4 linked regions of the Homo sapiens genome follow. The protein of the gene in region 2 interacts with the protein of the main gene of each other region in a pairwise test. Each region holds a gene or a part of one and is shown on either strand. Other genes may lie near its edges. The genes, in order: DOK2, TXK, ZNF792 and ZNF587.

Region 1 (8,423 bases), on a different chromosome or scaffold from region 2:
CTGGAGCCTCCTCTGCCCTCTGTGCTTTCCCCTACAGGCAGAGACTTGGCTCTCTCCTCTCCCCTCTCCAGGCCCTTCCTGCTCACTGCCACCATTTCAAGGATGGAGCTAGGCACTAGTTCAGACGCTGTTTACCCCTCTACGGTCTCTCCACCTCTTCTCATTCTCCTTCCTTCTACTCCACTTCTGCCATCTTGTCACTCTATTCTTTGCTTCACTCCATCTCCCTCTCCTGGTCTCTCCCATCCCCTCGCTGCTTCTCACCCCTCTTTGTTCGTAGCTTATCCTTTCTCTCAACCTGCCCTGATGCAGCTTCCCACTCACCTTGTCCCGCCCAAAGCGCCGCAGAAACCTGTAGGGCCAGTCGTACAGCTGGGTCCCTGGCTCGGGCCCACCCCACAGCTCCAGGGCACTCTCCCCAGCCCGGAGGGTATAGGACCCCCGCAGGTGGCACCTCTCACTGGCTTCTGTAGGTCTCATGGTCACAGCAAATTCCTTGTGGGGGCCGACTGGGGAGAAGAAGAGAGAGAAGGCGAAGGCAGTTAATGGGAAACAGCTGGCCTGCCTCACCACTGCCCAGTTCTAAATGAGCGTACCAGAACTTTTCTAGAAAGTATTATCCACACACTTATGGCCCCCTGCCTGGGTCTTGGAGGCTGAGCTGCTCTGTGCCAGGTCATACTCCCCAAAAGGCCAGGTACCTCCACCCCCTACCCTAGTAGGCATCACGCCCCTACCCACATCCACCCCAACCTCGTGCCCACATCCTTCCTGCCCCTGTCGCCAGAGCCACAGTCTTGTCTTCCCCACCCCATCTCTCACCCCAAACCAGCCACCACCCTAGTCCCTACGGTCACAGCTGCAGGTGAAGCCTTGGCCCTGCCCTCCCACTGCCGGGGCCCTGGGGGTGAAGCTTAGATGGAAGGCAGATGAAAGTTTCTCCTCCCTCCACCAGCTCCTCAAAAGCAACACCTGGGGCCAGGCGCAGTGGCTCATGCCTGTAATCCCAACACTTTGGGAGGCTGAGGCAGGTGGATCACCTGATGTCAGGAGTTTGAGACCAGCCTGGCCAACATGGTGAAACCCCGACTCTACTAAAAATACAAAAAATTAGCCAGGCGTGGTGGCCGACGCCTGTAATCCCAGCTGCTCAGGAGGCTGAGGCAGGAGAATCGCTTGAACCCGGGAAGCGGCGGTTGCAGTGAGCCGAGATTGTGCCATTGCACTCCAGCCTGAGCGACAAGAGCAAAACTCCGTCTCAAAAATAGAAAAAAGCAGCACCCTCACCTGGGCCCCCAGCCTTCCCCTCTCCCACCAGCAGGCCCTAGGTAAGATGAGGTGAACCAAGGGAGAGACTCAAGGCAGGGTAGGCTCCCTACGTTGGGCTGCACCCGGAAGCGAGAAGGAGAGGCTGATAACGGGGCTGGCCCAGGCTGGGGATAACCACAAGGCAGGAAGACTCGGGGCCAGCAGCTAGCCAGCCCACACCTCCTCTCCACCTCACCCTGGGGAGAGCCCCCAGGGGAGAGCAGGGCAGCCCCCGCCCCCTCACCTGTGACTGCGCTGCTGTACAATTCATTTTCCTCCATGCAGGGCCGGCTCTGCTTTCCCTCTGGCCCCGAGAGCTCCTTCCTCTGCCCCTAGGGAGGAGGCGCCCCGTCTCATCACCTTCCCCGATCCCCAGGCCCCCCTCTGGCCCAGGCCTTCTTTCAGGCCACCTCAACCTGCTGGCTCTGTCTGCACACTGGGTTCGGGTCCCCCCACATGGAGGAAGCACCCCATCACCCTGACCTTGACACCTGTAACACTTGCCCACAGGAAGTATCTAACACCCTCGGCCTGCACGCCCCCTTGCCCTTTCCGCACCCCGCGCGACTCACGGGGAAGGCCAGGAGGCAGATGGCCTGCACCCAGTCGCCGCGCTCCGCTGCAGGGGCCGCCAGGAGGTACAGGCGCTCCTTGGTCTCCAGGAAGAAGGCACTGGTGTCCCGGGGGCTGCTGGCCTCTCCGCCGGCCTCGGCCACCCGCAGGCAGTCACTGAGGCGGATGACCTTCCGGGCAGCCTCACACCGACGAGGCTTCTCCGGGCCCTCCTGCAGCTCCAGCCGGGCCAAGGCGCAGTCCGACCCTCCATACAGTGAGGCGCCGAAGCGGCGCCATTTCTGTGCCAGAGGCGTGGGAGGCGGGGGCGGGAGGGAGCCACCCAGAGACGGGGAGATCGTGAGCCAAGGGGAGAAGAGGAACCGTGGGAGGGGGACTGGGGCAGCCACTTGGAGATGGGGAGAGAGAGGTGAAGATCACATGAGACCCAGGGAGGCAGAGAAGAGGACAGTGACTGCAGGAATTAGAAAATCGGAGATCAGCCGCCAGCCCCGAGAAGGAGGCCCACGAGCAAGAGCAGAGACTGCCCAGGCAGAAAGCAACGCCGGGATGAGCCCAAAGCAGGCTGCAAGAAGGCCAAACAGGCCCACCGCAGTGGACTCCAGTCTGGGGAGGAAAGCGGGGCAGTGGCCGAGGCCCAGAGGAGGGAGTGAGGAGGGCGGCGTGTGACCCGGGCTGGAGACCTCATTCTCCTTCTGTGCGAAATCCTGAAGGAGAACTTCTCTCCACCCTCCTGAACCTTGCTGCCTCATTCCTTGATAGGTTGGGCCATGAGAGAGAGACAGGTGTGCCCCCCAGTGTTGGTTAGGGGACGAGGACTTCCTGGTTCAAGGAGGCCAGGGAAGGGGAAAGAGGATGGACAGCCGGCTGGGGTCCAGGCCCCCAGAGGCCCCAGCCCAAGCTGAACACCAGCCACATGCACCCCACTGGGGTTGGGAAGGAACCTCTATTGTCATCCTAAACTGTCCCTCCAGCTGCCCCTTCCATTCCCTTCCAAGGTGTCCGGTGAAAAGAAGTCAACATAGAGCAAGAGAGCAAAAGAGGCAAGAGATGAAAGCAGCACATCCCCCACCCCCACCCAGGGCAAACAGCCCTCAGTAAGGAGCACAGTTTGGGACCTGGTTGGGGCCTGGTTCAGGAGACAGCGTCGGGTAGGAAAAGAGCCCTCCCAAAGTTGAGCTCTGGGTCTAACTTGGTGGGTGCACAGTCAGACCTATAAGGGTTTTGAATATGAAACTCCCTCTCCAACCCAGGAATTCTAGCAGCCTCCCAGGCCCCCTGCCCAACCCCAGCCCAGCCTCACTCCTACCTTTCCAAACGTCTGCTGCTGCTGAAGATACAAGAAGCCTTGTTTCACTGCCCCGTCTCCCATCCTCTGACCATCTCGGAGCCCCAGGCTTCAGCTCTCTCCTTCACTCCTGCCCTTGCCTCTCTCTTCTTAGCCGTGTGTTTCCCTTCTCTGAAGTTCATTTCCTCTCTGCCTAGGGTTTTCTATACTATTCTAGTCTGCTCGATGACGACAGGCTGATAGGCCCTGCGGTTTCTTCTGAGTGTGTGTTCTTTTTTTTCTTTTTTTTTTTTTTTTCTGAGTGAGTTTTATACTCAAGCTTCCTGCATTTCCAGTGAGTTAGAGACAATTTCCAAAAAGCTAAATGCCAGCTCTTCAGTGAGCAACAATTCAGGTACAGAAGTTGGCACAGGGAGGCGCCAGCAAAGAGTGGCTGGCCCACTGGAACAGAGACCCAGAAACCAAACTAGACAGTGAAATCAGTAGTGAAGGCCCCCCCCTCCAAGCTGTACGCAAGTTGGAAGGGACAAACCACTAAGTTACAAATAAGGAAACAGGCTTGGAAAGTCTGAGGGATTTATTCAAGGTCACCAAACCAGAACCCAGGTCTCTCAACGCTTAACAGCTGAATGACACACACGGCACTGCACAGAGAGACACATAAGACAGCTCATGTGGGCCTAACCAGATACCAGTTTCACAAACACACACACACAGAGAGAGAGAGAGAGAGAGAGGCAACCGTTTAACTACATGCGAGCACTCCCTGTCTGCCAACAACACACACTCACACCAACCCTGTAAAGATTCTAGAAAGATGATCATCCCCTCTGGAGAAGGGACTGACTCCCCAAGTACATCTCAACTGTTGGATTTTTGCCTTCTTGCAAGCATTCCTGAGCATTAGAAAGATGCTTAGGTTTCATCTGCAAATTATCTTAAGTTTCAATAGCAATCACTTTCATATACATTTTGAAAATGGTTCAGAGTTACCGAAAGTGCTTCGTAGCTCGCAAAGCTTCTAGGCACACACTTTTCATCAGCCACGCCATCCTTTGACAAAGGCAGGGCAGGTATGAACACACTTATTTGCAACTTGCCTGAGGTCACAGAGGTAGTTGGGGGCAGAGGAAGAAGTAGAGACCAGGGCTCCTGATCTTTAATTCAACATTTTGCAGGGCCCCTAAATGGAATCCAGATCCATGCAAAAAGATCCATTGCTGTGGGGAAATCCAAGCTGCTCAGAGAAGTTTAACTTAAAGCCAGATGGTTTAGAGAAGCAATCTGTATGGAGGCACAGTGCAGAAGGGTTGGAAAAAACTGAGACTCAGACCAACACTCTTGGGGTTAATCCCATAACAGGTGCTTATATAAACAGGCCCATTTCCTCTACAACAGGGGTTCAGTTACCGTGGCAAGGAGCGAGCAGCACCGTGCACAGCTTAGGCCTTCTGCTGTACATGCCATGGACTGGACCAAATAAGCTTGAAAAAAATGAATGTCATGAGCTCTGTGAGGACAAGGATGAGTCACTTCAAACTCACTGCCCTCAGCCGTGATGCCTGGGTTTGAAGAGGTTGATCCAAAGCTCAAGGGAGAACCAAGCATACTGTTTTGGGAAAAGCACACCTTGGGAAGTGGTTAGGGGTATGGAAATGGGATGTGACCTAATCTTCCTCTTTAGTCCCTAAGGAGAGTCAACTCTGCCTGGGAGCTGCATGGTCTTTGGTGCAGGGAGTGAGAAGAGGAGGGCTTTATGGCCATCTTAGGGGCTGCCAGAGCAGTGCCTTCCAAACTGTAACATGTAGATCTTGTTCAAAGTAGACTCCAATAAAGTAGGTCTGGAATGAGCCCTGAGATGCTGCCGGTGGTGGGTGGGTCAAAGCACACTGAGTAGCAAGGTGACAGAGGATGTCCCCTGCTAACCTGATCGCCTTCCCTGAAGGCAAAATGGACACATTCCACTCAGAACCACAGGGGGGCACCCAAGTTTACCAGATTACTTGAAAGTTGTTTAAACCCGGAGGCCTGAACCCCAGGCAATCCAGACACTCCCTTGTCATCCCTTGCTTATGGAAGCTGGAGGAGTTCTCCGGTAGCCGTTGACTGCAGAAGATAGGGCAGCAGAGTATATACCAAGAGCAACACCCTTGCAGTCCTTCTAGGCCCCTTCAACTGTCCCTAGCAGGATTTGTGGCGACCCTGATGTAGAAGCACTAACCCCAGTACCTTCTGCCTAGCCATGGGGAAACCCTGTAAACAGGAGCCCAGAGACATTGCTCCAAGACACAGCAGAAGCGCACAGAATGAGAAGCCCTTAGGGTCCACAGGCACCAATGATGTGTAGAAAAAGCACTGTAAAGGAGTTGAGGGTGCCTCTTGGCTTGTCTTTGTTTTTACGGGAAAGGAAAAGGCACTCCAAACCCCACCTGTGGCTCATTCTAAGCCACTGGGATCCTGTCCCTTACAACAGTTTCTCTCAGCAGGAGTCAGGAACCACAGCTCCAAGAAATTTTCATTACTATTCTGCTGCAGTGATTAGCAACCCAATCCTAACATAAGAGGGCTGGGACCTTGTCTTTGGGGCAACAAAGGAAGGAGGAGAGGAGACTGTGTCTGACTCCTTGGGCCGGCTTGGGGATTAGGTAACCCTCAAATGATGTGCAGGTAGGGAAGCTAGCTAAGGGGTAGTTCTGGGCACACAACAGGTAAGTACGTATAGGATAGGCAGAGAACTGATGTGGGCCTGAGACGGGTGAAGGACTGAGCGAAAGAATTAGTGAGCGTGTATTCTGAAGGACCCCATCCCTGCCCCTTCCACCCCCAGTGGTCCCTGACTGTGGGGTGTGGGAGGGGGACAATGCCAGTCTCTTGAGCTTCATTTGTAGCCCCCCACCCTTTCTCCATTAAGTCTATCACTTTTCTCAGTACTAAGGAAAGAGAGAACCCAGTTCTAGAAACCCGCTGAGAGGAAGGGCCTATAACATAACATAACATAACATAACATAACATAACATAACATAACATAACATAACATGTTACCTAACAGTGACATAATATTTAGAATGCTTTATGTCTTCATATGAAACCCACATGCACCCTAGAATGAGACATAAAGAAGTTAATACATTCAACAGTTTTTTAAATTTATTTTTATTTATTTTTTGAGATGGAGTCTTACTCTGTTGTCCAGGCTGTAATGCAGTGGCACGATCTCGGCTCACTGCAACCTCCGTCTCCTGGGTTCCAGCCATTCTCCTGCCTCAGCCTCCTGAGTAGCTGGGATTACAGGCGCACACCACCATGCCTGGCTAATTTTTTGTATTTTTAGTATAGACGGGGTTTCACCATGTTGGCCAGGCTGCTCTCAAACTCCTGACCTCAGGTGATCCACCCCCCTCAGCCTCCCAAAGTGCTGGGATTAAAGGTGTGAGCCACCATGCCCCGCCTCAACAATTATTTACTGAGCATCTACTCTGTGCAGAGGTACTAGGGATACAACATAGACAGAATCCTTGTTTATACTATGTCTGCTTTTAGTTGGAGGGACTGATAATGAAAGAGTAATAATATGTAGTTTTGGACAGTGATCAATGCTGTGATAGTGATAGGCACAGGGGACAACTTTCAAGAGGGTGGTGAGAAAAGGCTCTCTGAGAGGTGACAAGTGAGCTGAAAAGTCCATGAGGAGAGTGAGCCAGCCATTTCACGATCTGAAGGGAAACCAATCCAGGCAGAAGTTACTGCAAGTGCAAAGGCCCTGAGGCAGGAGATCCTGGCTTTGCAGAACTGCAAGGCCAGAATGACCACAGAGCATTGAGCCAGAGGGGGCATGGTAGAGTGAGGTCAGCTCATACGACCTCTTGAGCCACAGCAAAGATTCGAATTCTAAATGCAACATGAGGCCACTTAAGGATTTTAAGTAGGAGTGTAAATTATCTGAATTATGATTTTAAAGGAATGTTCTGGCCAGGCGCAGTGGCTCACACCTGTAATCCCAGCACTTTGGGAGGCAGAGGCGAGTGGATAACCTGAGGTCAGCAGTTCCAGACCAGCTTGGCCAACGTGGTGAAACCCTGTCTCTACTAAAAATCCAAAAATTAGCCAGGTATGGTGGTGGGCGCATGTAATCTCAGCTACTTGGGAGGCTAAGGCAAGAGAATCGCTTGAACCAGGGAGGCGGAGGTTGCAGTGAGCAGAGATGGCGCCATTGCACTCCAGCCTCGGCAACAGAGCAAGACTCTGTCTCAAAAAATAACAAATAAATAAAATAATGTTCTGCAGCGTCCAGCTATATGGAAAATGGGTTATCAAGGGGCAAGACAGGAAGCAGGGAAACTAATTAGGAATCTATTACCAGAGCACAGGAGAAAGGTAATGGTGGCTTGGACCAAGGTGTTAACAGTGGAGATGGATGGAGAAGTGGTCATATTGGGTATATATTAGATATAGATTGAACAGGACTTGCAGGTGACTTGCATGTTGGGGACTGATAAGACTTGAAGAACCAACTCCTGAGTGTTTATTAGGAGCAACTGGATGAATGGTGGTACCATTTACTGAGGAAGGGAAGACACAGGGAGAAACACGGGGAGGTTGGGGTGCGGGGGTGGGGGAAGGGAGGGTGGACAGAAATTTGGGCCTGGCCCACTGTGAAACTGTTACCTCTATTCAGTCCAGTAGGGAATCCAAAGAATTTCCATTGCAATTGTGACTCTGAGAATATTTCATTGCCCGATGCCAGGTTCAGAAAGCCACTGACCCCATCACCCCGCCTCTTTATACGCTCGGAGCTAATGATTGGACGCTGGGAGGTTTTGGGGAAAAACAAAAACCCAACATCTGAAAAGGTCTATGCTCGCTAGAAGTTAACAGTCAAAAGCTCTGCCACTTAAATCTTCTGCCTCTTAAATCTTCTCTGAGTCAGCCTAATTGGCAGAGCCTAATTTGCATACAGAACCCTAGCTGCAAGGAAGTTTGGGTAATGTAGTTTCCAGGTGCCCTACCTCTGCAAACCAGGAAGACCTACTAGGAGGACGGAAGTCGAAATGAATGCTGAGCACCGGTCCACTACATCCACCAAGGGTGTGTAATTCACTACCACCATCATTTGCATATGATGGTAGTCCCCTGTAAATACAAACTTCAAACAATCAGTGCTCTCAGAATCCAGCTATGATCTAACCTGGGGGCCTTAAAAGGAAGCCACAGTGGAATCCAATGGAAAACAGGAACCGGCATTATCTAACAGATA
Region 2 (8,102 bases):
ATTTCTGCCTCCAGCCTGGAAAGGAAGACTTCCATTGCAATACACTCCCATGTACTCTTCCTTTCAGTTCCCAAAGCACCTATGCCCTGTCCCAAATGTCCTGTCCCAAAGCACAGTCCTGCCCTGTGGTTCCTAGTTAGGTACCACCTGAGATCGTCATTTAAGTTTCTCTGTGTAGGCTTCATCTCTCACAGGGCTTCCCAATCTCACCACTATCAACATTTTAGACAGGATCATTCTTTATTGTGGGGAGCTGTCTTGTGTACCACTGAATATTTAGGGCATCTCTGGCCTTTATGCACTAGATGCCGGCAGCAACATAACCCCCTCCCTTCTAACACCCACACCACCACCACCTTCCAATTGTGGAAACCCAAGTGTTTCCAGGCATTGCCAAATGTTCCCTGGGGGCAAAATCAACCCCAGTGGAGACACTGGACCAGATTGTAAGCTTCTCAATCTCAGGGACTGCATCTTATCCTTTTTTTTTTATTTTTAATTTTTTTTTTCTGTCTTCTCCCTAGCTTCTAGCATCAGTGCCTGGCACATAACAAAAGCTCAATAAATAACTGTTAAATAAGACCCCACCAATATCAACACCCTTACATTACATCTGAGCTCTTCTTTTTTTCCACTCATTCATCTTATCACCCAGTATTTCACAGTGTGATGCTGGCCACAGAGAAAGCTAAGCTGACCGTGACCTTTTGACTGAGTGGAACGGCAAAGGTGAAGACTGAGCTTCCGGAGCTTTAGCCAGCATTTGTGGGGGCTCATAAGTCTAACCTTTTATTCCAGACATATATTTTTAAACAAATGCTTATCCAAAATAAAGTACCAAACCATGAGATGCCAAATGAAATTATTAAAAACTCTCTGGCATTCAAATGTGTTTGTTTTTTCTTTTCTGTATTAAAAGAACATATGGGGTTCAGCAGGCTTTAGTATCAGGCAGACATGCACTCAAATCACTGTTCCCTTTTCTTGGAGCAACAATGTGATTTTGGGCAATCAAATCTAGAAAACGTAGGTAATAAAAGTTGTCTTCTAAGAAAGGGTTTCCCCACTTCTACCAACACAGCCCTTACCATATGCCAGGCATGACAGATACTTAGATCTTACTATACTACGCCATGCTAACTTACTCACTATACTAACATTATGATCCCCATCTTACACATAAAGAAACAGAGGAACAGAGAGCTTCAGCCATTTATCCAGTCACATAAAAAGCAGCTGAGCCAGAAGTCAAACCCAGAGTCCATGAGCATCACAATAGGACTATCCTTGTGGATGAGAAGATTAAATAAGATTGCAGAGGCAAACATGGCTAGAACATACCAGCTACTCTCAGTTACTTTACCACTTTGTCCCCATCCCCCAGTTCCCTAGAACTCATTCAGCAACTATTTATTGGGTACTCACAAAATACATTTAAGGTAACCAAATAGGAGCAGGTGTGGTTTTCCCTCTGAAGACAAAATGGAGGAAGAAGGCTTAGTAAACGAAAGCGAATCTTCAGCTCCAACTCCTCTCTTCTGAGCCAACTTTATCCCTGACTCAAAGGCAGATGTTTCCCCCGTTCAGGACTCCAGGAGACTCTCTCTCCCTGCTATCAAAGCAGGCCTCAGGAGAGGCTCTCACACTTTTTCTCAGTAAGGTATAAATGACAGACACAATGTTAAATAGTAAACATGCTGTACTGCAGCGCTTCAGCAATGTCATGCTTACTGCAGTGCAGAGGCGTGTACATGTTTGTAAGCATGACATTTGTAACAGTCAGGGTGAACACAGAGAGAGGTTTCTTTTAAGGAACTGGCTCAGGCAGTTGTGGAAACTGGCAAGTCCAAAATCTAACAGGGCAGGCCGGCAAGCTGAAGAATGAGAGAAGAGTTGCAGTTTGAGCCCAAAGGCGGTCTGCTGGCAAAAGTCCTCCTTGCTCAGGGGAGGTCTGACTTTCATTGATTAGGGACTTCAACTGTGGGAGAGGCCCACTCACATGATGGAGGGTGACCCACTGTACTCCAAGTCCACCGATTTAAATGTTAATCTCATCCAAAAATTACCTTCACAGAAACATCCAGAATAATGTTTGATCAAATATCTGGGCACCATGGCCAAGCCATGTTGACCCATAAAATTAACCATCACAACACATTAAATTTAAATAGTTTGACACTTGAAAAACATGGTATAAACATTTACATGAAGATTTTCTTCTGCCTCTGTCACCCCTGAGACAGAAAGACCAATCCCTCCTCTTCATCATCCTTCTCAGACTATTCAACATGAAGATGACGAGGATGAAGGCATTTATCATGAGCCACTTTCACTCCATGAATAGTAAATCTATTTTCTCTTCCTTATGACTTTCTTAAAGCATTTCTTTTCTCTAGCTTACTTTATTGTAAGAATACAGTGTATGATACACATAACATACAAAATACGTGTTGATCAACATTTATGTTATTGAGGCTTCTGGTCAATGTTAGGCTATGAGTAGTTACATTTTGGGGAACCACCTTATTCAAGTGTCAACAACTTTGTGTGTGTGTGTGGTTGTTTGTTTTGTTTTGTTTGAGATGGAGTCTTGCTCTGTCATCCAGGCTGGAGTGCAGTGGCATGATCTCGGCTCACTGCAACCTCCGCCTCCCAGGTTCAAGCGATTCTCCTGCCTCAGCCTCCCAAGTAGCTGGGACTACAGGCACACTCCACCATACCCGGCTAATTTTTTTGGTATTTTTAGTAGAGATAGGATTTCACCACATTGGCCAAGCTAGTCTCAAACTCCCAACCTCAAGTGATCCCCCTCTTTGGCCTCCCAAACTGCTGGGATTACAGGCAGGAGCCACCATGCCTGGCCAAGTCAAGAACTTTGAAAGAGAAATTGCTGTTATCAGTCAGCAGGCAGGAGTATCTGGGACTAGAGAAATGCCTCCCCCAGCTCCCTGACCTCACAACACATGGCCACACCTGATAATATTCCCCTTAGTTGTCTTCACTGTCTTCTGCAGCCTGGAATTTAGGAGAAAATATTTTCAAAAATTCTTATGTTTCCTGATTCAATAGCAAAGACAATGGCCTTTAAAGAAAGATACAGACCTACCCTACCACTGCTTTAATTATGACCCAATTTTATTTAATTTCCCTCAAAGTCCAAGAACAGTGGTGAGCAGGAAGGCAAACCACTGCTTTGTTTGTGGTTCCATCCTCTGCCCAGCAGAGTTGCTGCCCAATAAATAATCATTGCGAGAAGAAAAATCACACTATGAAAGCCAAACAGCTCCCTGGTGTTCCCTTGCTTGGCATGACTTTCCAAGACAGCAGGCATCTTTATTTACAGGTTGAAGTGTTGGGCCAAAATTCATTCCAATGCAGGTATCAAGGAGTATTCATTTCATGATCATTTTCAATTTACAGCAGCACAGGTGTTCCCAGTAAGTAAATAGACAGCGCCCTTCCACAGGCATTCTGTGATTACAGAAGCCATTCTTTGAATTGTTTTGCCGATTAACCTGCAGAGGGAAAGCTCTTGAGCTTTTAGCAAATTCCCAACTTAGGCAGGAACTCATGCATATCAAGGGCCTTTGCCAGAGTGACAAAAATGCCCCAGAGATAGGCAATGACTATTTGCCTGCTGGAAGGAAATGTGGAAAGAATATATTCGGGCTTGAAGATTATCACTGAAGGAGCTGAGCTTCCTCTCCCAGGCTTACATCTGCGCTGTTCTTTTCATCTACTTCTCATTCCTCAGTAAATATCTCTAATGATGAGCCTCAGGCCAGCAAATCAGAAAAAGGGCATCGCATCAGATGTAATCTCTGTGACCTTTAGAAACCGGCACATCTGTCATGGGATAGGCAGTTGGCCCTCCCATCTTTGGTATTTGTGTTTTTTCCTTGGAAGGATTTGCGCCCCTCTGTCCTCTAGGAGAGGCTCCTATTGACATTCCTTCCACCCCCAGAGGTTCCTGGGTGGCAACAGCTGGGCTGATTGGGAACAGGTTTCCACCAGGGGGCACTGGAAGAAAGCAAAAGTGAGAAGCACCCCTTCTCAGAATAGCTCCTAAGGTCATCTCTGAAGAGGACAAAGGAACAGATGTGAAGAACTGTGGGGCCCGGGCTGCGCGGGAAGCAAAGCCGCTGTCGCTTCCTCATGTCTAATGTTTTGAAGTTTACATCGTCACCTCCAGTTCATCCCCTGGCATTTCCGATGTCAGGGTTTCGTTTTGAATCAGTGCCTTGAGTGAAATGCATTCCTACTGAATTTGGTCATCATAATAACTGGCACATGGCTAGTGATTTATATTTAAAAACATGGCTTGAAACTGGCTCAGTTTTGAGAGCTGCCTTAACCCAAAGACCAGGCTTGTTGCCCAAGCCAGGCGCTCCAGGTTGTGGTTTTAAGATGAGGAATGTCTGATACCGGCTGCTTTTGCAGTTGATGGGCTGTGGTGAGTGGGGAAAGCCTTAAAAACTTGTGGCTTTGGAAAAATGGCTCTGGGTGACCAGAGCTGATTCTGTAAGTTTGCTGCAACATATCCTTTTTGTTTTTTTTTCCAGAAATTTACAGAAAGGCCAAACTTCCTCATTACTCTGCCATAAATGCCCACCACTACATCCTTTTTTTTTTTTTTTTTTTTTTGAGATGGAGTCTCACTCTGTCTCCCAGGCTGGAGTGTGGTGGCACGATCTCAGCTCACTGCAACCTCTGCTCCCGGGTTCACGCCATTCTCCTGCCTCAGCCTCCCGAGTAGCTGGGACTACAGGTGTCTGCCACCACGCCCGGCTAATTTCTTTTTGTATTTTTAGTAGAGACGGGGTTTCACTGTGTTAGTCAGGATGGTCTCGATCTCCTGACCTCGTGATCCACCTGCCTCGGCCTCCCAAAGTGCTAGGATTACAGGCGTGAGCCACCGCGCCCAGCCTATCTTCAAAAGGCCCCATTTCTTAAGGGCCTTTTGAAGATAGGCACGTTTTAGCCACATTAACCCATATTATCTGGGGAGAGTGACACATAACTAGCTTGGCTATAGCATGGATGGATTTCTACCTCTGAACAGGAGTTAGAAAAGACTTCCAAGTTGGAGTTAGACTTCTTGGTTTGGAGTTAGACACCAAACCAAGACCCCACACCAAGGAGAGGGGAAAATAGTAAAATTGGGACATTGAGTTTTTCACATATTTATTCAATTTAGAAAGTTATCCTTTATTCTGAGTTTATGCCCTTTATACATTTGGGGTCTGAAGTGATCCTGTGTCTGTGTTCGCACGTGTGTGCACTTTTCCTTTTGATACTAAAATGTCCATTATTCTAAGAAGTGATGGTCTCCAGAGATGTTAGTTTTTCTAAATGTATGGATAAAATAAGTGAGTAATTTGTGTTAGACCTTGACTGTTCTGTTTTTTTGACATTATACTGCCAGTGAAACCTTAAAGAAGGGAGGATAACTACTTTAGGGGAGTCACTGGTGACTAAGAGAAAACAAGTACCTAGCTAACAGGACACCAAACTGATCAATTTGAGTGGAAGAGTGGTGCTTGACCTGTCTATGGCCTGAAGGGGTGCTGTGTGGGGTGAGGAGATTCTAGAAGCCTGGCAAGCTGGATGGAGTCCCGGGCACCAGGGAAGACAATGTTTCTGGGAGTAAAAGGTGCTGTAAGGAAAGGCAGAAATCTTCCTGATGATGACCGCTCATCTGTTTCCCAGCTTCTGCCAGGGCAACTCCCCAGACACGGACAGCAGCCACCCAAACCCTTGTTTGGTCTATGAGGCAATTTTTCTTTCTTTCTCAGAAGGGGCTGATGTGAGTTGGTCTTTGCAGGCACCTTGCCCACAACTTCCCCACTCCCCCACATCTCAAAACAGTGTTTCCTAGAACACTGTTTTCTGTGAGCTCAAAGTTCATAATAAGCTCGCAGACATCACACCCAAGACATCGAGCCAGCTTGTGATGTGAAGAAGTGCTTGGCCACAAGGCACACGGGCGTGGCTGGCACTGGGCCAGAAGCCGTACTGCTCACTGACCCTCGGTGGGCAGGGAGTGTGGGCACTGCTGGCCTGGGGAGCTCCACAGAGGAGAAATGTGGGGATCTGCAGTAGTTACAAAAGGCAGCTGCAGTGACGAGTTAAAAACTGAAATGATTTAAAGACAAAAGAAAAGACACATCTAGTGTCCATTTTAATCTTTCAGAAAGGGCATCAAACTCCAGCCCCAGGCAGAAGGGTGGCCAAAGTGGCCAAGTTCTTTTTTAATCTGCGGCTTCTCCTGCTTTTGCCACACACTTAGTTATCTATTGTTGGAAACAAATTATTCTGAGACCAAATGACTTACAACACTTATCTCACACTTTTGTGGGCCAGGAGTTCTGGAATGGTTTAGCTGAGTGCTTGTGTCTCCAGATCTTTCATGGAGTTGCAGTCAAGCTGGGCCCAACCAGAGCTGGAGAATACACTTCTAAGCGAATTCCAAGCAGGTCATGGTGCCTCGGTTTCTCGTGATGGGGATTCTCTGCGGGCTGCCTGAGAGTGCTCCCAACAAAGCAGCCGGCGATGCAGGAGACAGAAAGCCCGAGATCGCAGGAATGGGAGCCGCCACCTCTGTAACCTGGTCTCAGAGGTGACGTTCCATCACTTTTACCATATTCTAATCACAAGAAGTGAGGTACTAGGTCCAATTCATACTCAAGGAGGAGGACTGCCTAAGGGCGTGAATATCTGGAGGCAGATATCATCAGGCCATCTTAGAGGCTGCCTACCACAGCTACCCTCCTTATCTTCATATTCATAATAGTAATAATGGAAGGTGTTGACCTAACAAAGTTGGTGTGAGAATCAGATACAAAAAGGAGTAAGATAGGACTCTGAAAAGAGAGGCCCAAGAAAGGCAGTGTGACCAAAACATCCTTACTTTACCCTCAGATCCAGTTATGGAGATGAGCCCAGAAACCTGCCTTTTAACAGCACCCCAGGCATGCTTCAGGCACACCAAGACTTAGAAACCACTCTTTCTACTCTCTAAGTTGGGAATAAAGAAAGGCAGAGAAATTAGGCAAACAGGGGAGCTAAGAGGTGAATTCTTTAAGCCCCCAGCTGCTTTCCCTTGCCCTGTCCTTTAAATAACTCTTCTAGGCTGGATCTGTTCTCAGGGCAACTGTGAGTTGATGGAAATGCTGGCAATACCAAGTACGTTTCACAAACTGAATCTCACTGGAGCAGTGCCCTGAGACCCCACTCCAAATCTCCCATCAGTATGATCAATATCCCACGCTCCACAATTATCTTCTCCCACCCTATAGCAGCCTTTGAAGCCAGGATTCTATGACAATGCTTAAAACAACAAATGTTTTTGGCAAATGACCCTAACAAACATATAAACTTTTTTTTTTTTTTTTTTAAAAGACTGGGTCTCACTTTGTCACCCAGACTGGAGTGGAGTGGTGCAGTCACAGCTTACTGCAACCTCAAACTCCTCAGCTTAAGCAATCTTCTTCGCTGGACTTTTTTTGTTTGTTTGTTTGTTTTTTGATTAACAGTAATACATCTTGAGGCATCACTTAGCTGTCTCCTTGTCAATAGTAAACACTCATTGTTTTACCCAGCAGAAAATGTAGCCACATTCAGCTGCAATATACAGTAGACAACAGGTGATTCTTACCATCAAATCAAATTAACAGAAGCTGGAAAGGAGAACGAGATTTCATCAAATCCATGCCAGAGAGAATAATCCTCAAAATATCCCGCCAATAGGTAGTCCCTTATTTAATCCCTTGGACAATCAAATCCTTGTCTCAACACTCACAGTGATTTATTTTATATATAACCGAATCCTTCCTGCTGTAATTTACAGCATTTTCTTTAGTTCTGACCTTGAGGGAAATAAAGAGCAGATGCTCACACAGCTTTTAATATTTAAAGATCCTTAAGTCACTGCTGAGCTTGTCCTGCCAGTGGAGGTGGCAGGGGACACAGGTTGCTGCTTTGTCGCTTTTTCTGCTTTGCTCTGCTTGGCCTATATTTCTGTTTACAGGAGGCTTGTTCTTATCTGCGTGAATGGAAGACTATGAGTTATTTTCAGGTCAGCACAACTGGAATAACCTGAT
Region 3 (6,478 bases), on a different chromosome or scaffold from region 2:
AGGAAATTCTGACATATGCTCCAACATTGATGAACCTTGAGAATATTATGCTAAGTGTGAAATAAGCTAGCTACAAAAAGACAAATACTTATTATTCTACTTATATGAGGTACCTAGAGTGGTCAAATTCATACAGACAGGAAGTAGAATGGTGGTTTTGAGGGGCTGGGGAAGGGAAAATGGGAAGTTATTGCTTGACAGGTACAGAATTTCAGTTTTGCAAGATTGAAGAGTTCTGGAGACGAATGGTGGTGATGGTTACATAACAATACGAATCTACTTAATACCATTGAAGTATACACTAAAAATGGTTAGGATAGTAAATTTCATGTTAAGTATATTTCATCAGATTTTTTTAACATTTTTAAATAAACCATAAAAAACTATGGTGCACTCACCCAGTATAGCACTACTCAGTAGTAAAAGGAATGAACTATATATACACACAGCATGGATGATTCTCAAGATAATTATGCTGCATGAAAGAAACCAGACCAAAAGAGAGTATAAATACTTTATGATTCCAATTGTGTTAATTCTAGAAAAGGCAAACAAATCTAAAGTAAAAAATGTAAATCAACGGTTTCCTAGGGAAGGCAAGGAGGGAATGTAAAGGGGCATGAGGTAGCTTTGCAGGTGATGGATACGTTCATTATCATGATTATGGTATTGGTTCCCTGAGTGTACATAATATATGTACAAAACTTACCAAATATGAATAATTATTGCATGACAATCACATATCAACAAAGCATTAAAAGAAACTGTTGCACATAAAAATCCAACTTCCTACTCATTTTAGAAAATCCGATTTGGCAACCCTATATTGACTCTGTCATCTCTTTCTTCTTGCCTTGGGAGCAAAGAATGGCTGGCTACGTCATAGATACTACAGTCCCTATAGTATAGGATCTGCTTTTTCTCAGTCCCTATTTTCCTGCCAGCACAGCACTGGCCTTCAGATGCACAGCACGGAGATGGTAATCCACAAAACCAAAACCTTTAGATTATTTGCTCTGCCAGTAACATTAGTCATAGGACAGAGGTCTGAGGTCCTGAGAATTTCTGCAAACCCTGAATCCTGCACAGCCACATTCAAGGGAGCATTCACGGATGCACATTTAGCAGAGTTCCATTTCTGCTGGTTTGCTATAATCTCGCCTACTCCCTATTAATCACATCCAGTGTTTCTGTACAAATTATGGTCCCAGCTGGGCCTGGTATGTCTTACAGTTAAGAGATACCTGCCTAATGCTGAACTTCAGGGCATATGGCTCCTTGGCAGGTGCTAAACAGCATCTGCTTTACAGTATTGGGGAATATGGGGCACCCCCTGGGAATAAGGGACCCAATTCATGCTGTTCCCACATGCACTGGAGGTTGTCACAACTGCCCCCTCCTCGGGATAAAAATTCACGCCATTCAGACCACAATATTATACCCATAAATTCCTACAATTTTTCCTAGGAGGCCTTGGTGGCAATGCAAATGAGGTCAAATCTGGATTGACAGTTGTTTCTCTGCCATCCTCCTGTCCCCTCCAAGATAATCTGGAGACCCCTTCAGTTTGGTAGATCTTAACTCTGCTCTTGAACCACCCCACACAGTGATCAGAACATGGAAGACTAAAGGCGGCTTTATCATAAGGCCATTATCATCACATGAACCAGGGCAATACACAGGAGATAAGTTGTTGTGTAGAGTAACATGAAGGCTGGACAAATCCTTCACAGGCATAACATGAGACCAACAATGTCCCAGAAAAAGGGAAACCTTCTCTAGAACAAGCTGTTGGCAAAACCCTGCTCAGGTCTTCACAGCCAAAAGCTGGTCATGTCCATGGCTAAACCAGCCATACAGGGCGGGAATGACATCTTCCCAAGGCTTCAGACTACTCCTAATTCCCTTTAGGGATTGGAAAGAGAGAGGAGAGGTCTGCCTTCCCTGAGCACAGTGGAGTGGTGGACACACTCTTTGGAGAGCTGCAGTGTGTGGTGCTGACATGGCTTCTATCACAACCCCAGCAGTGAAAAAACGCTGATAAACTCTACAGTAAGAGAATGTAACTTGTCTCCAGAAAGCTTCCAACACAGCTAGCATTCCTAGGGAACCTCCCCAGGGTGGGTACTTGGATGAACAAGTTTCAACTTGTAGTTGACAGCGCCCTGATAAGGTCTGTTCTCAGAGCTTATCTCTGGTGTGTGCTGTGAACAGGGAAGGAGCACATTCTCCATGCTCCTTTCTCTGATGTGAATCTTCTGATGCCGAATGAGGGTAGGCCTTTGGTTGAAGGCTTTCCCACATTCGCTGCATTCGTAAGGCCTGTCTGGTTTGTGAACTTTCAGGTGCTGCCTCAGATTGGACCTCTGCCTGAAGGTTTTCCCACATTCGCTGCACTCATAAGGCCGCTCGCCGGTGTGAAGTCTCCGGTGGTTATTGAGGCTGGAGCTTTGGTTAAAGAATTTCCCACATTCACTGCACTGGTAAGGCCGTTCACCAGTGTGAAGTCTCCGATGGCTATTGAGGCTGGAGCTCTGGCTAAATAACTTCCCACATTCATTGCATTCATAAGGCCGCTCACCAGTGTGAACTCGCTGATGTTTCATGAGGTCAGAGCTTCGGCTGAAGGCTTTCCCACACTCACCACACCCGTGAGGCCGCTCGCCAGTGTGAACTATCTGATGTTGAATGAGGCTGGCAATGTGGCTGAAGAATTTCCCACATTCGTTACACTTGTAAGGTCTTTCTCCAGTGTGAACTCTCCAATGTTTAATTAGGCTGGAGTTGCAGTTGAAAGATTTCCCACATTCACTGCACTCATGGGCACTTCTGCCCGTATGAACCCTCTTATGATGAATGAGGTTGGAACGCTGGCTGAAGAACTTCCCACAGTCGCTGCACTCATATGGCTTTTCACCAGTGTGAACCCTCTTATGCTGAATGAGGTTGGAGCTTCGGCTGAAGAATTTCCCACAGTCACCACACACGTGAGGGCTTTCACCGGTGTGAACCCTGCGATGTTTAACAAGGCTGGAGTGCTGGCTGAAGAATTTTCCACATTCACAGCACTCATACGGTTTTCCTCTATTGTGAACTTTCTGGTGTTGAGTGAGGTCAGCGGCGTAAGTGAAGAAGATTCCACATTTGCTGCATTCATAAGGCCTTTCTCTGCTGTGGATTCTCTGGTGCTGAACAAGAGTGGATTTGTTATTGAAGGCATCCCCAGATTCACAGCACTTGTTATGCCTTAGTGCAATGTGAAAATCCACCACACCTTCGGTGGCCTCGTGCGGCTCCCCATCGCTGGGAGTGACCTCACACTGCAGAAACCCTGCTGTGGCCACAAAGTCCTTCCCACCCTCCCTGCAGGTGGAAAGCTGATCTGATGTGTGGTCTCTGCAGGTCTTTACAGGGGAAGCCTGGCCCTCCTCCGTTCTGATAGGGTTGTGTACGTTCTGCTGCACCTGTTTCCGGGGAAGGTTTGCACTGAACTCAGAGCCTTTCACATATGCCTCACACACAAATGGTTTCTGCCTGGGATGTGTTGTCTGGTGTTCAGCCAAATGCAAAATGTCTTTCAAACGTAGGCCACATATGTCACAGGGGCAGGTCTTCTGGGGGCACAGAGTTGCCTCGGGACTCCTGTCCTGTGCCACTCCTTCTACAGAAACGTTATGCTCAGAAGGTAAGTCCTTGCCCTCTGTTCCATGGCAAAAATCTGAAAGCAGAGAAATGCTGGTGAAGTTCGTATAAACTTTAATAGAAGGAAAGAGCCCCATCACCTATGCTTGGCTGACCCAAGAATAAGCCCATGGGATTGTTGGCAACACAAGAAGGCTCAGGTCAGGGTAAGGAATAATCTGCTCCGCCATACTGTGCCTGGCCAGGTCACAAAATACAGGAGGCCTTATCAGGACCAGGGACACAAGGATGGGGGACAGTATTGGGCAGAGAGGCAGGGTCTCCCACTCACTTCTCTTTAAAGGCCTTTTGGCAGGGCCTGGGCTGCTGGTAACCTGTGAGGGCTATGCAGTGAGAGCATCTAGACCCAGCAAAACCTGCAACTGAGTAGCTGGTGTTCAAGCACATCAAGGAAAAGCACGTATCTCACAACACATTAAGTGTAGGCCAGTGTTGGAAAGTGCCGCAGAGGAAGCTGAAAGAGAGAAACGGAGGCCAGAAAAGTGGGGCACAGCCAAGGGGCCCAACTCAGAATAATAATGACAAGTAGATAATGTGTCAAGCACGGGGAAGGAAAAGCAGAGACGTGGTCTGGCTACTGGCATTGGTATCAAATGATGATGAATAGGAGAGAAGATGCTGGTATGATGTAAACACAGTGGTGAAGTCACATCCTCCCCTAGCTCCCATCGCTGCTTACCAGAGCCAGGCCTGCCATAAGCCCCTCTGGCCATGGCTGATGTCATATCCACACTGTCAGGCACCCAGGGCTCTTTCCCCATCTCCAACTGGGAAACGATGTGGGACCTGAAAGATATAAGTCCTAAGGGAAAGACAGAGTGGGTCAGTGGCCAGCACCTGCCCAGTTGAACTACCCCATGATAGACTACAAGACAGGAAGCTCCGTATGACACAGGGACATTGGGTGGTCACGGCAAGCAGTAACCACATCAGTGATTGGAATTCCTGGCACAGTCAGGCTTAGGAAATATTAGCAAGAGGAAAGGCACAGAATCTAAACCACAGAACTGTCAGATCTGGATAATCACCCAGGAGGGAATGGCCGAGTCAGAGGTAGTCACACAGCTAACCGCAAGACCCCTCATGCCTGGAGCTTCCCTGCAAGGCTTCAGGCAGCAGGTGTGGGGGCAGCTCAGGGAGAGGAGGGAACAATGCACATAGCTCAGCCCCAGAAGCCACAACACACATACCAGGAAAGTGGGGATGGAAGCAGTGCCAGCGGTCTGGCTGTGGGAAGGAAAGAGCTGTTTCTTGGGCAAAGGGGACAGGCAGAGAGGAGCTCGGGACACCGGGGTAGGGGTGACAGCCTTACCCAGCGAGGCTATAAGTGCAAAGTTTTCCAGCATCACATCGCAGTACAGGAGTCTCTGAGCCTCATCGAGGAGCACCCACTCCTCCTGGGAGAAGTAAATGGTCACGTCCTCAAAGGTCACGCAGCCCTGCCATGATGGGGACAGTTCGTTCCATGATCAGTCTCTGTCCTTGGGACTCCCTATCCATCCCCTGCTCACTCTCCTCCCCAGCTCCACAGCTCCAGGAGGTAGCAGGCCCTGGTTCTGTGGGCGCCTCATGTGACCACTGTGTCAGCCCGCAGCAGCAACAGGCAGGGTGCAGAGAGGCACCCTCTAAGCTCTGGGCCTGAAGTCCAGGGCCCAGCTCGCTCTTCTGCCAGCCTCTTCCCCTAGTGTCACCAATGTCATGCTTCTCAGATACAAATGTGGGCTTCTCCTTTAAACCCCAGTCCAGAGCCCTGGGGTGAACAGCTCATACTCCCTCCCACGTGCGTTTCACTCTTTGGACTGCACCACCCTCACAGCTCCAGACCTTCACCACGGCCTCCCATTGCCACTGCTACCTTCTCCCCATCCTGGCCCCTATCCTAGCCATCTCCATGGGCTCCCACGAGTCACTCTGCACATGGCATCCAGAGAGTGCCTGGCAAACATAAGCACCATCCCAGCCTGCCCCAGACCTTTGATGGCCTCCACTGCCAAGGGCAACACCCAGGTAAGGGGGAGAGGGAGCGCTCCACCCTTGCCTTGGAGCCCCCTAGCTCCCCTGGCCTGGCTTCAACCTAAGCCACCCACGGCACACATGGATGTCACATACACTTGGCCTTCTTTGTTGCACATTCTGACCCTGTCATCACTCACACTCATTTAAAAAAGAAAAAAAAAGCCAACCCCTCTGGCCATCCTACCCCCACCCACCTAAGCCCAGCAACTCTGCCAACTGACTCCTCTTGCCCCAAGCTAATTCCCCAGCCTGAGGACAAACCCCATCAAGGGTCACCACAGAAGCCTGGTGAGAACATAGGTGAGTGTGTAAGCACCAGCCCAGGCCTCACTGCAATATTACCTCCTCTACTGCTAAGCCTCAGCATCCATCTCATTCATGTCTACACTCTTTGGGATGATCTGGCCACCTGCCAGACCCTCTGATACACCCACATAGCCCCTCCATCACCACCATGACCACTACTGTTCCTCACCTGTCTTTATGATGCCAAACAAGCCACAGTCCCCAAGCAAGAACCCTGCTCTCAGTTTTCCAGCCCCACCTTCCTCTTTTTTTTAACATCATTGTCACCATGACCTGAAGTTTCACCTCCTAAATCTCACACACAGCTACACTCCCGTCCACACACCAGATGTCACATTTTGGATGTTTCTAACTGTTGAAATAAACAAAGACCAATGAAATGAGAAAAGCCAAGGCTACTTACTCAAAGCTCACTATAGCAAGAGAGACTCAATGCAAGCCGGGAGTGGGAGAG
Region 4 (6,861 bases), on a different chromosome or scaffold from region 2:
CCTTGTGATCCGCCCACCTCATCCTCTCAAAGTGCTGGGATTACAGGTGTGAGTCACTGTGCCCGGCCGTGTTGTCACTTTTAATGTGCTTTGGTTTTAATTTTCTGTAGAAAAGTAAAACAAATTTTTCCCTTTAAATTTAATCCTTGCTTTTAATGACTTGTGCACCCCAATTTACTAAGAAAATAAACCATTTAAAAAATAATCTTGAGTTGGGCATAGTAGTTTATTCCTGTAATCCCAACACATTGGGAGGCAGAGGCAGGCTGTTGACTTGAGCCGAGGAGATTGAGACCAGCCTGGGCAACATGGCAAAACCCTGTGTCCACAAAAAATGCAAAAATTAGCCAGGCAGGGTGCCTGTCTGTAGTCCCAGCTACCCAGCAGGCTGAGGTGGCACGATCACTTGAACCCTGGGGGTGGTCAAGGCTGCAGTGAGCCATGATCATGCTACTGCATTCCAGCCTGGGCAGCAGAGCAAGATTCTCTCCAAAAATAACATAAAAAGTATGTGTGTGTGTGTGTATATGTACACACATATATACGTATATATGTGTGTACATATACACACACACACACATATATGTATATATATAAAAAATGCCTTTATGTGTAGGCTTGATTTAATTTTCAATTTTATGTGAAGCATAAATTGAGCAGTTTTTCTATCTCAATTTTTAATCTATTTTAACATTGTATTACATTATCTATTATTTTCTCTCCAAATTGATAAGCAATGTACACCCCTCAGACATGGACTGTGATTTCTTTTTTTTTTTTTTGAGACAGAGTCTTGCTCTGTTGCCCATGCTGTAGTGCAGTGCCACGATCTTAACTCACTGCAACCTCTGCCTGCCAGGTTCAAGCAATTCTATGCCTCAGCCTCCTGAGTAGCTGGGATTACAGGTGCTAATTTTTGCATTTTTAGTAAAGACATGGTTTAACCATGTTGGTCAGGCTGGTCTGGAACTCCTGACCTCGTGATCCACCCACCTCGGCCTCCTGAAGTGCTGGGATTACAGGCATGAGCCACCACACCCAGCCAGGAAAGTTCCTTATAGATTCTTTCTAGCTATTGAAAAGAGAATTATAATCATCTAAAGAGGATTAATTCAACACTTAGGGAAAGTAGAGGTTAGCAAGAGGAAGTTACTTCTCTTAGAGTATGTGATTCAAAGGAAAAAATGTGCCACATCAAATATACATGGACTGGCTAAACATTTCTAGGTACATGTAGATTTATAAGCCACTGTAAGATTCAACACAATGAGGAAATTACTGGTGTAATAAAAATAAACATTAGATTGATGAAACACAGTAAAATAATTTCAAACAGGAAAGAGGTATGAATCTTTTGTACAAAAAAAGTTTGACATATATTTAATTCACATACAAGCAGGAAGATTAACTTCATAAGAGAATTAACAAAAGTTGTATTAATTCAAGACAAGAGACTGCAGAGACTAAAATTGCTTAGTACTGAAACTTTTGCTTATATAAACTGTAGTTTATGGAGAAAATAAAGAATTTTTTTGTTTTTTTTGAGGCAGGATCTCACTCTATTCCCCAGGCTAGAGTGCGATGGCACCATCTCGGCTGATTGCAACCTCCATTTTCCAGGAAGGCTCTTTAATTCCCCCTGATTACAAAGGTTTTGTGTGAACATAATTTGGTGTAATAAAAAAAAATTTACACCACAAGAGACAAACATACTCTTCAGTGTGTGTGGTCATAATTTGTTTGAACGAGCCCTTTTAAACTTCTAGATATCATTGAAACTCCTATGTTGATTAAAAATCATCAAAGATCTTTCCAGTGAGAAGGATGAAGATATTACTGAGAATGAAGTATCACTATTTCATGTATGTGCCTGTATGTGCTTATATAACATGCTGTAATACAAGGTGACATTTAGGGGCTGAGACTGTTAACATCTGACTGTACCTTGCTATTTGTAACTTACAATCTTATTCACATTTCTCAAGTGCCATGCCTTTAGGTGCCTATACATCATGCTATCATAGGATTTCTAGGGATAAGCCGAGTGCGGTGGCAGATGCCTGTAATCCCAGCACTTTAGGAGGCCGAGGGGGGTGGATCATGAGGTCAGGAGTTTGAGACCAGCCTGGCTAACGTAGTGAAAGCCCATCTCTACTAAAAATACAAAAATTAGCTGGGCGTGGTGGAGGGAACCTATAGGCCCAGCTACTCGGGAGGCTGAGGCAAGAGAATCACTTGAACCTGGGAGGCGGAGGTTGCAGTGAGCCGAGACCATGCCATTGCACTTCAGCCTGGGTGACAGAGTGAGACTCTGTCTCAAAAAAAAAAAAAAAAAAAAAAATTTAGGGATAATATCTAAGCCCATATAACATGCTGTTATAAAGTTATAAAGTATAACATTTATGGATTGAGTTTTTTTTTTTTTTTTGAGATGATGTGTCTCTCTGTCACCAGGTTGGAGTGCACTGGTGTGATATTGGCTCAGTGCACCTTCCACCTCCCAGGTTCAACCGATTTTCTGGCCTCAGCCTCCCGAGTAGCTGGGACTACAGGCACCCGCCACCATGCCCGACTAATTTTTGTATTTTTAGTAGAGACAGGAATTCACAATATTGGCCAGGGTGGTCTTGAACTCCTGACCTTGTGATCCGCCCACCTCAGCCTCCCAAAGTGGTGGGATTACAGGCCTCAGCCACCACACCTGGCCAAGATTCTTCATATAGCTGATTATCTTGCCATTTCTAACTTACAATCTTTTATCCACATTTCTTAACTTTCTTTTGTTACACTAAACGGGACAGGAAGTCTTAACTCTTGTATCCACCAAGCATGTTAGGAAAATAACAGAGATTCCATTAGCAAATTAAGCTCCCCAAAAAACACAAATACATATCTAAAAAATGTTGCAAAGACAAGAAGTGGCCAGGGCGTGTTGGCTCACGCCTATAATCCCAGCACTTTGGGAGGCTAAGGCGGGCGGATCACGAGGTCTGGAGATCGAGACCATCCTGGCAAATACAGTAAAACCCCGTCTCTACTAAAGAAAAGAATACAGGCCAGGTGCAGTGGCTCACGCCTGTAATTCCAGCACTTTGGGAGGCCGAGGTGGGTGGATCACGAGGTCAGGAGTTTGAGACCAGCCTGACCAACATGGTGAAACCTGGTCTCTGCTAAAAATACAAAAATTAGCTGGGTGTGGTGGCACGCACCTGTAATCCCAGCTAAAGAGGTGGCTGAGGCAAGGAGAAGTGCTTGAATCCAGGAGGTAGAAGTTGCAGTGAGCTGAGATTGCGACACGGCACTCCAACCTGGGCAAGAGAGCAAGACTCTGTCTCAAGAAACAAAACAAAAAAATTAAGCTGACGTGGTGGGCGCTTGTGGTCCCAGCTACTCAGGAGGCTGAGGCAAGAGAATGGCGTGAACCCGGGAGGTGGAGTTGCAGTGAGCCGAGATCGTGCCACTGCACTCCAGCCTGGGTGAAAGAGTGAGACTTCTCAAAAAAAACACAAAGTGTCCACTCAATAACTTTGCTTGAAACTGTCTTCATGTTCTTCACTTCACAAATATAAAGCTGTTACAGTGGACTTTGTGAGGTTCCATGTTTTTGGTCAGCCATAAGAGGAAGAATAATTCAGAGTGAGAGGAAACAGATTCTAGGCAGCCCTCAGGGAAGTTGAGGAGGTGGCACCCTGCCTCCGGGTCCCTCAGAATGTCCCATCTCCCTGTCAGTATCAGTGTCCCAGATAATCTTCTTCTGATTGGGACATTTCCCTGGGAACAGTGGTTACTTGCCAAATTCACATTTACGGCCAAAACTGTGGCTGCAGTGTCGACATTCATGCAAGTGGGGAAATGGGCATGTGACCCCTGAAAAAAGATTCTGGATTCCATAATCTCACCTTGCTGAGAAGAAACTGCCATTTCAGCAGAAAGTGCAATGACAGTTTCTGCACAGGGACTGGAGATTATCTCTAGAAAAGAGCTTGGAGTGAGGAAATTAGTTAATGTGGATGAATGACGTTACCCATGGAGAATGAAGTAAGTAGCTAGAAGACAAAAGCCTCAGAACACATAAATCTCAATGGGTATTGAGTAGAGGACTCAGAGCTCTGAGATAATTGGAGCTCATGGCTATCCTAGAACTTGGATAACATAAAGTTCTTGTTTCTACAAAGTGTGTATCCTTTCCATATGTGAGAACTGTGAGGAAGTACAAACTTGGAACAAAAGAAATAGTAAGGTAATCTTAGAAAGATGTTGAAAAGAAAGCTATGGTGGCATCTTAACTGTTTCACTGCCTGGCAATCTATATGTATTGTCACTTTGGGACGCTTATGATTCCACATGAAGTGGATAACCAGCTCATAGTTCTTGTGGTACTGAAAACCAAGTATTCAGCCAGGTACAGTGGCTGACACCTGTAATCCCAGCACTTTGGGAGGCCGAGGCAGGTGGATCACTTGAGCTCAGAAGGTAGAGAGCAGCCTGGGTAACATGGTGAAACCCCATCTCTACTAAAATAAATAAATAAAATTAGCCAGGTATAATGGCACATGCCTGTAGTCCCAGCTACTCAGGAGGCTGAGGCAGAATCGCTTGAACACAGGAGGTGGAGGTTGCAGTGGGCCGAGATCATGCCACTTCACTGTAGCTTAGGAGACAGAGCTAGACTCCATCTGGAAAAAAAAAAAAAAAAGAAAACCAAATATTCCTTGCAGCAAAGTGACATCACTGAAGAATGAATGAAGTCCAACATACGTCTTTGTTATTTCATTATTTTTAAATATATTAATGAAATGGGAAATAGATAAAATTCATTTTAAAAAACAAGCCTACAGGTGAGGCCAGGCAGGGTGCCTCACCCCTGTAGACCAAGCACTTTTGGAGCCTAGGCAAGTGGATCGCCTGAGCCCAGGAGTTCGCGATCAGACTGGGCAAAAAGGTAAAACCCTCTCTACAGAAAATACAAAAGTTATCCAGTTGTGGTGGTGCATACCTGTATTTCCAGCTACTCTGGAGGCTGAGGTGGGCAGAGTGCTTGAGCCCAGGAAGCAGAGGTTGCAATGAGCTGAGATTGTGCCACGGTACTCTAGCCTGGGAGACAGAGCGAGACTTTGTCTCAAAACAAAAAAAATGCAAAACATAAACCACTGACTCAAAAGTTATAACCACTTATTAAAATAATAAACAATTTCAAATACTAACCATACTCCCTCTTGGTAAGATAGAACAGAAATTCTTGGACACTGATGGTAGATAGATATACAAATGAGCAATAATTTCATTCTTAAGTCATAGTTTGGCATTGCTTAAAAAGTTGTACATTAGGCCAAGCACAGTAGGTCACACCTGAGAAGCTGAGGCAGGCAGATCACTTGAGGTCAGTTCATAACAAGCCTGGCCAGCATGGTGAAACCCCATTGCTAATAGAAATAAAAAAAAAAGTTATCCAGGCATGGTGGTGCACACCGGTAATCCCTGCTACTCGGGAGGCTGAGGCAGAAGAATCAGTTGAACTTGGGAGGCAGAGGTTGCAGTGAGCCGAAATCATGCCACCTAACTCCCGCCTGGGTGACAGAGTGAGACTCTGTCTCAAAAAAGAGTTGTACTTTAATCTATCACGTGACTCAGGCACTGCACACCACCATATTACCATAGTGAAACATACCTACATGAACAACTGCATTCAAATATAGCAGTTTCATTTATAACAGACAAAAACAAGAAGCATGTCATTCTTTTTTCTTTTTGTAGAGAGGAGGTCTGGCTATGTTGCCCAGGCTGATCTCTAACTCCTGGCCTCCAATGAACCACCTTGTCCTCCCAAAGCATCAGGTTTACAAGCATGAGCCACCATGCCTGGTTCAGCATGTCATATTCTAAGCAATACGAAAAGAATGAAGGCCAGGTGCAGAGGCTCATGCCTGTAATTTCAGCACTTTGGGAGTCAAGGTGGGTGGATCACTTGAGGTCAGGAGTTTGAGACCAGCCTGGCCAACATGGTAAAACCCCATCTCCACTAAAAACACAAAAATTAGCTGGGCGTGGTGGTGTGTACTCATAATCCCAGCTACTCAGGAGGCTGAGGTAGGAGGATTGCATGAACCCAGGAGGCCCAAGTTGCAGCGAGCCAAGACTGCACCACTGCACTCCAGCCTGGGTGACAGAACAAGACTCCATCTCAACACGAAGTCGCTTAAGACCGAGGACAGCAGACATTCTGATGTTTTCCACATTGACAGCACTCATAAGGCCTTTCTCCAGTATGAACTCTCCTGTGTTTAACGAGACGGGATGCTTCAGCAAACGATTTCCCATATTCACTGCACTCATAAGGCCTTTCTCCTGTGTGAACTCTGATGATGAAGGAGGGTAGAGCTTCGCTGAAATGTTTTTCCACATTTGGTGCATTCATAAGGCCTTTCTCCAGTGTGAATTCTCCTGTGTTTAATGAGACTGGAACATTCAGAAAAGGATTTTCCACATTCACTGCACTTATAAGGCTTTTGTCCAGAATGAACTCTTTTATGAACATGAAGCGCAGAGCTGGAAAGAAATGATTTCCCACATTCACTGCATTCATACGGCCTTTCTCCAGTGTGAATCCTCTGATGTATAGTCACGCTGTGCTTATTGCCAAATAATTTCCCACATACCTCACACGCATATGGCCTTTCTCCAGTGTGAACTCTCTCATGAACCAGAAGATGATACTTCCTGTTAAATAATTTCCCACATTCCCTACAATTGTAAGGTCTTTCCCCAGTGTGAAGTCTCTGGTGTTCAGTGAGGTGGGATCTGTACCTAAATGATTTCCCACATTCCTTGCACTCATAGGGCCTTTCTCCAGTATGACCTCGC

Evidence for each region.
Region 1: the proteins of TXK (region 2) and DOK2 interact in binary tests that used the Homo sapiens proteins (3 or more experiments, as listed by UniProt).
Region 3: the proteins of TXK (region 2) and ZNF792 interact in binary tests that used the Homo sapiens proteins (3 or more experiments, as listed by UniProt).
Region 4: the proteins of TXK (region 2) and ZNF587 interact in binary tests that used the Homo sapiens proteins (3 or more experiments, as listed by UniProt).

Annotation. Positions count from the first base shown.
Region 1 is NC_000008.11:21,910,349-21,918,771, forward strand, and holds the start of DOK2 (docking protein 2), read right to left. Parts: upstream 3,343-8,423; 5' UTR 3,254-3,342; coding exon 3,191-3,253; intron 2,163-3,190; coding exon 1,881-2,162; intron 1,641-1,880; coding exon 1,553-1,640; intron 510-1,552; coding exon 325-509; intron 1-324. UniProt on the Homo sapiens protein: DOK proteins are enzymatically inert adaptor or scaffolding proteins. They provide a docking platform for the assembly of multimolecular signaling complexes. DOK2 may modulate the cellular proliferation induced by IL-4, as well as IL-2 and IL-3.
Region 2 is NC_000004.12:48,123,940-48,132,041, forward strand, and holds part of TXK (tyrosine-protein kinase TXK), read right to left. Parts: intron 1-8,102. UniProt on the Homo sapiens protein: Non-receptor tyrosine kinase that plays a redundant role with ITK in regulation of the adaptive immune response. Regulates the development, function and differentiation of conventional T-cells and nonconventional NKT-cells.
Region 3 is NC_000019.10:34,955,854-34,962,331, forward strand, and holds the end of ZNF792 (zinc finger protein 792), read right to left. Parts: intron 5,142-6,478; coding exon 5,015-5,141; intron 4,505-5,014; coding exon 4,382-4,504; intron 3,719-4,381; coding exon 2,103-3,718; 3' UTR 501-2,102; downstream 1-500. UniProt on the Homo sapiens protein: May be involved in transcriptional regulation.
Region 4 is NC_000019.10:57,859,609-57,866,469, reverse strand, and holds the end of ZNF587 (zinc finger protein 587), read right to left. Parts: coding exon 6,330-6,861; 3' UTR 1,353-6,329; downstream 1-1,352. UniProt on the Homo sapiens protein: May be involved in transcriptional regulation.